Regions from separate parts of the Homo sapiens genome. Here regions 1 and 2 are each linked to region 3. Evidence: fine-mapped expression QTL. A gene starts in region 3. Each other region holds a variant in brackets. All regions are shown on one strand. Distances are between the middles of the regions.

Region 1 (2,500 bases), 89 kb before region 3:
CAAGGTCCAAGCATCACCTTTAGATAGATGGGACCCATCTTCAATCACATTATATAGTCGGTTCCTCAGGAATTGAGGTGAGACCTAACAGAAAATCATGGCTGGTGGGCAAGACGATGGAGGATATAGAAACTGCTGCTTTATCAAGAGTTGAAGGTGACAGTCAGCCAGGAAGTGGTCAGAAGACGCAAGTCCCCTGAGCCGCGGGAGCACTGCATTGGGACAGTGCCACGGTGCTGGGATGGTGGGAAGAAGCAGCTGCCTGTGAAGGCTGGGACATTGCTCTGCGGGATGCAGAGGTGCAGCTGAGGAAACTGCACACCACTGCCAGTCCACCAGCACAGCTCCACGGTGGCCTGCGCCTCTAGAGTGAGGCAAATGGTCACTGTGGGCAGCGCCCGGCTGGAAGGAGATGCAGATGTGACTCCATTCCACCGACTCCACTCCACTCCTCCTCCAGAACTTGACCCTTGTGGACTGTAGCAACCCTAAGCTACCTCTCAGGCAGCCAGGATTCTGATCTGGAGTGGGGCGATTCTTTTTTTTTTTTTTTTTTTTTTTGAGATGGAGTCTCGCTCTGTCACCCAGGCTGGAGTGCAGTGGTGCAATCTCGGCTCACTGCAAGCTCCGCCTCCCAGGTTCAAGTGATTCTCCTGCCTCAGCCTCCCGAGTAGCTGGGACTACAGGTGTGTGGCACTACACCCGGCTAATTTTCGTATTTTTAGTAGAGACAGGTTTTTGCCATGTTGGCCAGGTTGATCTTGAACTCCTGACCTCAAGTGATCCACCTGCCTCGGCCTCCCAAAGTGCTGAGATTACAGGTGTGAGCCACCGTGCCCAGCCGATTCTTATTTCCATTCTGCAGCGTTTCATGAGAGTTCTCCTGCTGCACCGCAGGGAGAGGCGGGACACTGGCTCCACAGCCAACCCCTCTGCACCCCGGATTCATGGGCCTATCCAGCAGACACAGGTAGCCGCCCACAGCCCATTGCCCACCCGGAGGCTTTTTTCCAGTAGAGAGATGAGAGCGTGTGTTCTGCCCACGTACGGACTAGCAGTTTCCACATTTCCTGAGGTGCAGGGCACCGTGCTGGCTGCTCTGGGGCATTAAAAAAAATTAAGAGACTGGCCGGGCGCGGTGGCTCACGCCTGTAATCCCAGCACTTTGGGAGGCTGAGGCGGGTGGATCACGAGGTCAGGAGATCGAGACCATCCTGGCTAACACGGTGAAACCCTGTCCCCACTTAAAAAAAAAAAAAAAAATAGCCAGACATGGCGGCCTGCGCCTGTAGTCCCAGCTACTCGGGAGGCTGAGGCAGGGAGAATCGCTTGAACCCGGGAGGCGGAGGTTGCAGTAAGCCGAGATCACGACACTGCACTCCAGCCTGGACAACAGAGCAAGACTCCATCTCAAAAAAAAAAAAAAAA[AG/G]GCCGGGCGCGGTGGCTCACGCCTGTAATCCCAGCACTTTGGGAGGCCGAGGCGGGCGGATCACGAGGTCAGGAGATCGAGACCATCCCGGCTAAAACGGTGAAACCCCGTCTCTACTAAAAATACAAAAATTTAGCCGGGCGTAGTGGCGGGCGCCTGTAGTCCCAGCTACTTGGGAGGCTGAGGCAGGAGAATGGCATGAACCCGGGAGGCGGACCTTGCAGTGAGCCGAGATCCCGCCACTGCACTCCAGCCTGGGCGACAGAGCGAGACTCTGTCTCAAAAAAAAAAAAAAAAAAAAAAAGTTGAGAGATGACATAACTCCTGCCATTAAATAATTTACGATCTAGTGAGAGGTCTACAAGCAGTGCTGAGCGATGGTGCAGGAGCTTGTTCTTGCTCGCGCTAGAAGCTCCTTACTGTGCGCTGCAAAGAGAAGGGTCTTGCCCTGGAGGAGGAATTTAGAACATTGTGAAGCAAGGATAGATCATAAATGAGGCTAATGGGTAACTTCCCAGAGAAAATATGGATTCGAGCTGAGCAGAAGCTGAAATCTTGGCCCAGCATTAGCAAAACTGAAATCACACTTTGGAGATGCATTACTTTTTAAAAATTATTTACTGATTTAATGCATCCACTGAATTTATAATTTAAAACTAATTATAAATTGTATAATTATATTTTTATAATTTATATTTTAAATGTTTTATATTTCTATTTTATATCTTTATACATTTTTATTTAAAAACTTTTTATAACTTAATTGTTTAATTTATTATAATTATATAATTTTATTTTTATTGACGGGGTCTTGTTCTGTCTCCCAGGCTGGAGTATAGTGGCACAATCATAACTCACTGAAGCTTCAAACTCCTGGGTTCAAGCTATCCTCCTACCTCCACCTTCTGAGTAGCTAGGATTACAGGTACATGTCACCATGTCTGGCTAATTTTTAAGATTTTTGTAGAGATGGGAGTCTCACTACGTTGCCCAGGCTGGTCTTGAACTCCTGACCTCAACCTATCCTCCTGCGTTGGCCTCGCAAAGTGCTTGGGATTACAGATGTGAGCC
Region 2 (2,781 bases), 230 kb after region 3:
GCTTGGTATAGTTTGAGTCATTATATGACTACATGCCTTTATATTATTTCTAAGTGCTTTTGAAACAATCTCATACTTACAGAAATATTGGAGGTACAGAATAAAGATACTATTCATTCTCCTGATTGATTTGGGATAAGTTGAAGGCCTGATGCCCCGTCACCCCCAAATACATGTTGAATATCCTTTATTCCAATTGCTTGGGACCAGAAGTGTTTTGGATTTCATCTTTTTTCAGCTTTTGGAATACTTGCAGTATACTTATATTATGTTGACACTCAAAAATTTCAGAATTTGGAGTATTTTGAATTTCAGATTTTCTGATTAGGGATGTACCTGTACTTTTTTTTTTTTTTTTTTGAAATGGAGTCTCACTTTGTCACCCAGGCTGGAATGCAGTGGCACAATCTCGGCTAACTGCAACCCCCGCCTCCTGGGTTCCAGCGATTCTCCTGCCTCAGCCTCCTGAGTAGCTGAGACTACAGGCGTGCACCACCATGCCCAGCTGTTTTTTGTATTTTTAGGAGAGATGGGGTTTCACCATGTTGGCCAGGATGGTCCCAATCTCTTGACCTCGTGATCTGCCTGTAAGCAGGCTTTTCTAACGGGAGTGGCTCAGGCCTGCTGTGTTCACCCTTTTCTGTGCGCTTGTGGTGGAACGTAGGCTCCAATTCCAGTCCAGCATGCCAGGGTTCATCCTAGCCTTTTCCTTCCCTATACTTGCAACTCCGGCTGTGACAGTGGAAGCCTGGCCTGTGCTCTCCACCTTTGGAGTATGTATTTATTTCGTCAGGCCCCAGCGTCTCTCCAGTATCCTCACCCTCCCAACAGCTGTCCCCACATGCGACGGCCTCCCCCCTGCGTCCCTCCCGCACTTCCATCCTTTTCCCTGGTGGGTTCCTCCCAGATGGGTTTCATCAAGGAGGGCCCTTGGGACCAATGCCTTTGGAAGGGAGGGGAAGGCAGTGGGATTGAGAAGACAGAGATCATCCCACAGTGAGGCCAGGCAGGCACCCGCAGCAGCTCTGGGGTTAAAGGCTCTTCATGGCTGTCCGGAGTTGGGCCCCAGTGACCTTTTTACCTCCTCCACAGTCAGTCCCTGGATGGGGCCCTTCTGGGAAGGGCAGGGCCAAGGCAGCTTTTTGCAAAACCCTAAAGGGGGCTGGGCACAGTGACTCACGCCTGTAATCCCAGCACTTTGGGAGGCCAAGGCGGGCAGATCACTTGAGGTCAGGAGTTCAAGACCAGCCTGGCCAACATAGCAAAACCCCATCTCTACTAAAAATACAAAAAAAAAAAAAAATTACCACTATAGGCGTGGTGGTGGGCACCTGTATTCCCAGTGACTCAGGAGGCTGAGGCATGAGAATCGCTAGAACCCAGGATGCAGAGGTTGCAGTGAGCTGAGCTCTTGCACCATTGCACTCTGGCCTGGATGACTAAGTGAGACCCTGTCTCAAAAAAAG[C/A]AAAAAAAAGCAAACCTAAATAAAAGGGCCACAACTGAAGGCTTTCTCCCAGCAGGTGGGGCAACAAGCCCCCCAGTGAAGGGGTCCAGGCAGCACGCCATCCGCCAGCTTCCCCAGCCCGTGCCCTATCCTTACTCAGTCCCCTCTACCCCTCACTGCCATGGCTTCTAAACAGAATTGTTCAGGAAGGGCAGGGAAGAGAAAAGGAGCCCGCTGTTTTTAAATGATGCTATAACTTAAATCTTCATACCTTTAGATGGGCTTTTCCCTATTGTGAAAGTTTTTACTGAAACACTTGTTTCCGTGAAATCATCCCAAACTAGGAAGAGAAAATTAAGCCAGCCTGGTTCTGTTTCCCCCAGATAACCGCTCCCTTCATCCGTCGCTCCGATGTGGCAGCGCGTGTGTGTGCTTCGTCACCTGGAGGTTTGATGAGCAGTCTCATCTTTGAGCCTTGTTCTGCAGTTTGTCCTCTGACCTGGCTTGCACATTTCTCCTGCGTTCTTATGTCTCATTATTTTATTTTTCTAGGGACTCTAAGAATCTCGATAGTGAGCTCTTTCCAACAAAGTTGTGGGGCCACCAAACTCGTAGTGGATAAAACTGCAAGGGAAAATGTAGCCGTGAAGCACTTTTATTCTACATTTCCCATTTTTACTCTCCATTTCCCACAACACGAGGAACATACGGTGTTCCCAGTTGTGCTGTTTCTTTTGTTTTTTTTTTTTTTTTTTTTTTTTTCGAAAATGCAACAAAAGCAATAAGCAAGAACCGCCCCAACGTGGGTCCTGGAGTCCCTCTTCAAAGGCACGGAGAGGGAAGTCTCTACACATAGGGTCAATGGAGGGCCTAGAAAAACCAACAGCCATTCAAGGCTGTAGGATTTAAAGCATGATCTTATCTACAGAAGATTACTTTCTAGTTCTCACTACATGGAAAGTCAAGCTCGACCCATCAGAGAAACTGAAGAAAAACAAACACCCAGGGGCTGGGATATGAAAGACCCTGAATAAATATGAAGTAAATTTAGTAGAGTATGCAGATAAAAAGTACAAGTTGGAATTTAATCCTTAATTTTTTTTGCCGTTGATACTTTAAAAAAAAAAGATTTATTAGTGGAAAAGTATTTTTCCAGTCTTTAGAAAGACATTCCTAAAAAGCTGGAATTTCATATTTCAGTAGTTTGGTGATATGTGAACGAAATAAAAACCTATGATCTGTTGCCAGTTGAGAAGCTGACCATTACTTTGTCCCCATGATAGGGTTAAAAATCTGTCAAAAGGTGATTGAAACCTACAAGTGCTTGTGTTTTCAG
Region 3 (2,843 bases):
GGAGAGCGGCTTCTCGGCACGTCCCTCCGTATTTCTTCTAGATCAGCTCCGGCCCCACCGTCCAGGAGAGGGCCCGCCTGAGGACCTCTGTCTGTGCCGCGCGTGGTCAGCCCCGGTCCCCTCACTCCATGGCTGGCCCCTAGCCCTTCAGAGCGGACACCTCTCCTTAGGGATGCAGGGCGAGGAAGGGCGGGTGGAGCTGCGAACCCACGGGGACCTGGAGGACCTCTTGGCCCCCTGGAGAGGGGTACTATGAGAGGGATTCATGGGACACAGATTTGGGGGACTGGGTAATTTTACCCCCTTTGGCAACCATAAAAACCCTGAGCAAACGTGTCCATTCGCTATTTCGCAGAAATATACAATGCAGGCCCACACAGGCATCTCTGCGAGGCCCCCTAGTTAAGGGCGCAGCGTTCTTCGGAAGCTCTTGGTCTTGCTACCAGGGCGTCACCGGCTTTTCCGCACTGGGGACATTTCGTTTGGGCTCTGCGCAGCCGTTGCACCTAAGGCCCTGGGAGCTCCGCGTTCCTCCCCAGGCGCCCGGGACAAAGTGCCCGAGGGCTCCGCAGACGTCCAGCCCTGCCCGGGGCTCACGGCCGCCGGGGCTCTCCAACGGACCGTCGAGGGCCACGTTTTGCTGGGGTGTGAGCGACGATTCTTTTCCCGCCCTATGAGGCCCGCCACTAGCTAGGTGCCCCATGAGACGCCGTGGCGAGCACGGCTACCTGGCAGCTCGCCCGGGCAGCCCCAACTTAATTTCCTGCCCCTCGGGGCACCTTTCCCTCGAATAGCTCTCCTCGGCCCCTCCAGCCCTGCCCAAGGGGCCTGGAAATGTTCGCAGCTTCAAGAAAGGCTCTATTTAAGCACAGGATGGGGTGGGGCGGGCGGGGCCAAGATTGCCCTGGGGATTGAATTTATCTCCGCTCCCAGCGATCCCCGGCGGATAAAGCGCAAGTTTGTGCACACGGTCGACTGAGCCATTGGAAACCCAGCTCACGAACCGCAGCCAGGGAAACGGGAGTTTGCCCAGTTGTCCTTGCGGAGGGGTGTGCGGAAACGCCCGCGATGGGAACTTTCTGCAGATCATGTATGGAGGGAGCTCACAAAAAGGAGGAAGGGGAGCGCGGTGGGGAGGAGGCCGCGTGGGCGTGGAAGGTCCCAGGGTCCTGGGGGTGCCCGCCTGCTTAGGCGCAGGGAATGGCGCGGAGCTGGCTGGGGAAGGAGCCGATCACGTCCCGCAGGCTAATTGGCTTAAGAAATTTTGCAAGCGCTGGAAAAGGTCGTTGAAGGAGTTCGCTGCACGCGCACGCACACACATACACACACACACAAAATCTTAAAAAAAAAAAAAAAAAAAAAAAAAAAAGAGCGCCGAGCATGCGCACAGAGAGGATGCCATATTGGAATGAGCTGTAGTGGGAGCCGGAGGACCGGAGCGGGCGCGCGAGGGAGGCGGCGGGCGGGGAGCGAGCGGGCAAGGGCGGGCGAGCGAGCAAGCGAGCGAGGCCGGTGCCCTCCCGGGCGGCGACCGGGGCCTGGGTCCACGCCGAGGGCAGGACGAACTTCACCAGGTAGGACGCCGCGCCGGCTGCTGTCCCCGGCGCCCAGGCTGGCCGGAGAGCAGCCCTTCGGCCCGCAGGTTGAGTGCGCTGGTCAGGGGCTTTTTCCAGCCTAGGAAAAAAAAGGAAAAAAAAAAAAAGGAAGGAAGCCTGAGGGAGCTGGGGTTGGAGGTGGCGGGTGGGGGAAGGCTGGGGAGGGTGCAGGGGAGCGAAAGAGAAGGGCAGGAGAAGAAAGCGACTGCACTTGAGCGAAGCTTCAAACTCCTCTGTGCGCTCCAGGTTGTCATTTTTGCTTCCCGGGTCCCCTTCGCCTGCGTCTCCGGGCTCGGAAAAGCCGAGCCGTGCGGGAGTCCGTCCGGAGTTGCAAAGTGTCCTCCTTCCCCGGGCGCAGCCTGTCCCCTCCCGCCGCCCACCTTCCTCGTTTCTGCACTCATTTTAGCGACGCAGCCGCCGCTGCTACCTACCCCGCGCTCCCGCGTCTCCTCCGCGCTGGGGTCTCCCCTTTCTTTTGGTTTGGGTGGGAGAAAAAGATGGTGAGGACGGGGAATCGGAGACCGGCATGGGGGTAAAAATCGTGCAGACATTCGGAATCGCTCCCTTGGAAACATTTGCCTGAGCAACTGAAATAAAATTGGCAGTAGTAGTTTTGGAGCGTGCTCCAGCGAGGATGGTCTTTTTGTTCATTATTTTCTCTTTAAAGTAATATCCTGTCACTTAGGGGCTTTCCGGTTGTCTCCTCTTATTCGACCCCCTTTCAAAATTGCTGACTTGAGCTGGTTCTGGAGTTTATTTTTTAATATGCGTGCGTGGGTATGTGTATGTGTGTGTATGTTTTGCAGAAATCCGCCAAAATGCAACTGTAGGAACTGCGAGATGTATTTATTGATTTTGACCAGGGGCGGTGGGAAGGGGCTGGAGGGAGCTGGGGGATCCTGGAGGGTGGGAAGTGGCTGATTCTCGGTGGCCGGACACTCATCCAGAGCCTGATCCGTACTCGTGTTTTCTTGGAAGCGCCACAACTGCGGGGAAGGAGTCTTTAGAAACCGTGCCAGTTTCAATATGGCGGGCTAAGGTGGCTTTTAAAAACTGAAAATAAAGGTTTTGAGGTGGGAAAAAACCCAGCTGAAGTTTCCACCCCTTAGTTTCGACTCTCTTTGGCTACCCCAGGAAGCGCTTTAGCGAATTAAGTGGGGAAAAAAAGAAGGAATGGGCTGTCCGGTTTTTTTTTTCCGTGGTTAGAGTCTGTGTGTCAAGTCCATTGCTAGGGGGGAAAGGGATGGA

Direction of the effects. Positions count from the first base shown, and alleles are read on the strand shown. Sizes are in standard deviations (SD) of each study's normalised expression. Not every link is listed here.
For the expression in monocytes of the gene that starts at base 1,401 in region 3, allele C in region 2 goes with a lower level than allele A (large effect, 1.1 SD a copy in Schmiedel 2018).

The links. PIP is the estimated chance that this variant, and not a neighbour inherited with it, causes the effect. A credible set is the group of variants that fine-mapping cannot tell apart.
Region 1: its variant is the best candidate, but not a certain one, in a credible set for the expression of SFMBT2 in whole blood (INTERVAL, PIP 0.60).
Region 2: its variant is the best candidate, but not a certain one, in a credible set for the expression of SFMBT2 in monocytes (Schmiedel 2018, PIP 0.87).

The regions. Positions count from the first base shown.
Region 1 is chr10:7,499,113-7,501,612 of GRCh38, reverse strand. No RefSeq gene overlaps it. Among named protein-coding and RNA genes, the nearest start is that of LINC02642, 28 kb to the right of the region's middle. The variant AG/G (reference allele first, on the strand shown) is at 1,429.
Region 2 is chr10:7,178,818-7,181,598 of GRCh38, reverse strand. All of the region lies in intron 16 of SFMBT2 (Scm like with four mbt domains 2), which reads left to right. Among named protein-coding and RNA genes, the nearest start is that of SNORD129, 6.6 kb to the left of the region's middle. The variant C/A (reference allele first, on the strand shown) is at 1,467.
Region 3 is chr10:7,409,592-7,412,434 of GRCh38, reverse strand. It overlaps SFMBT2 (Scm like with four mbt domains 2), which reads left to right and starts at 1,401. Exons shown (of 21, transcript NM_001387889.1): 1 at 1,401-1,574. RefSeq lists enhancers at 1-231, 232-1,152 and a silencer at 1,388-1,527.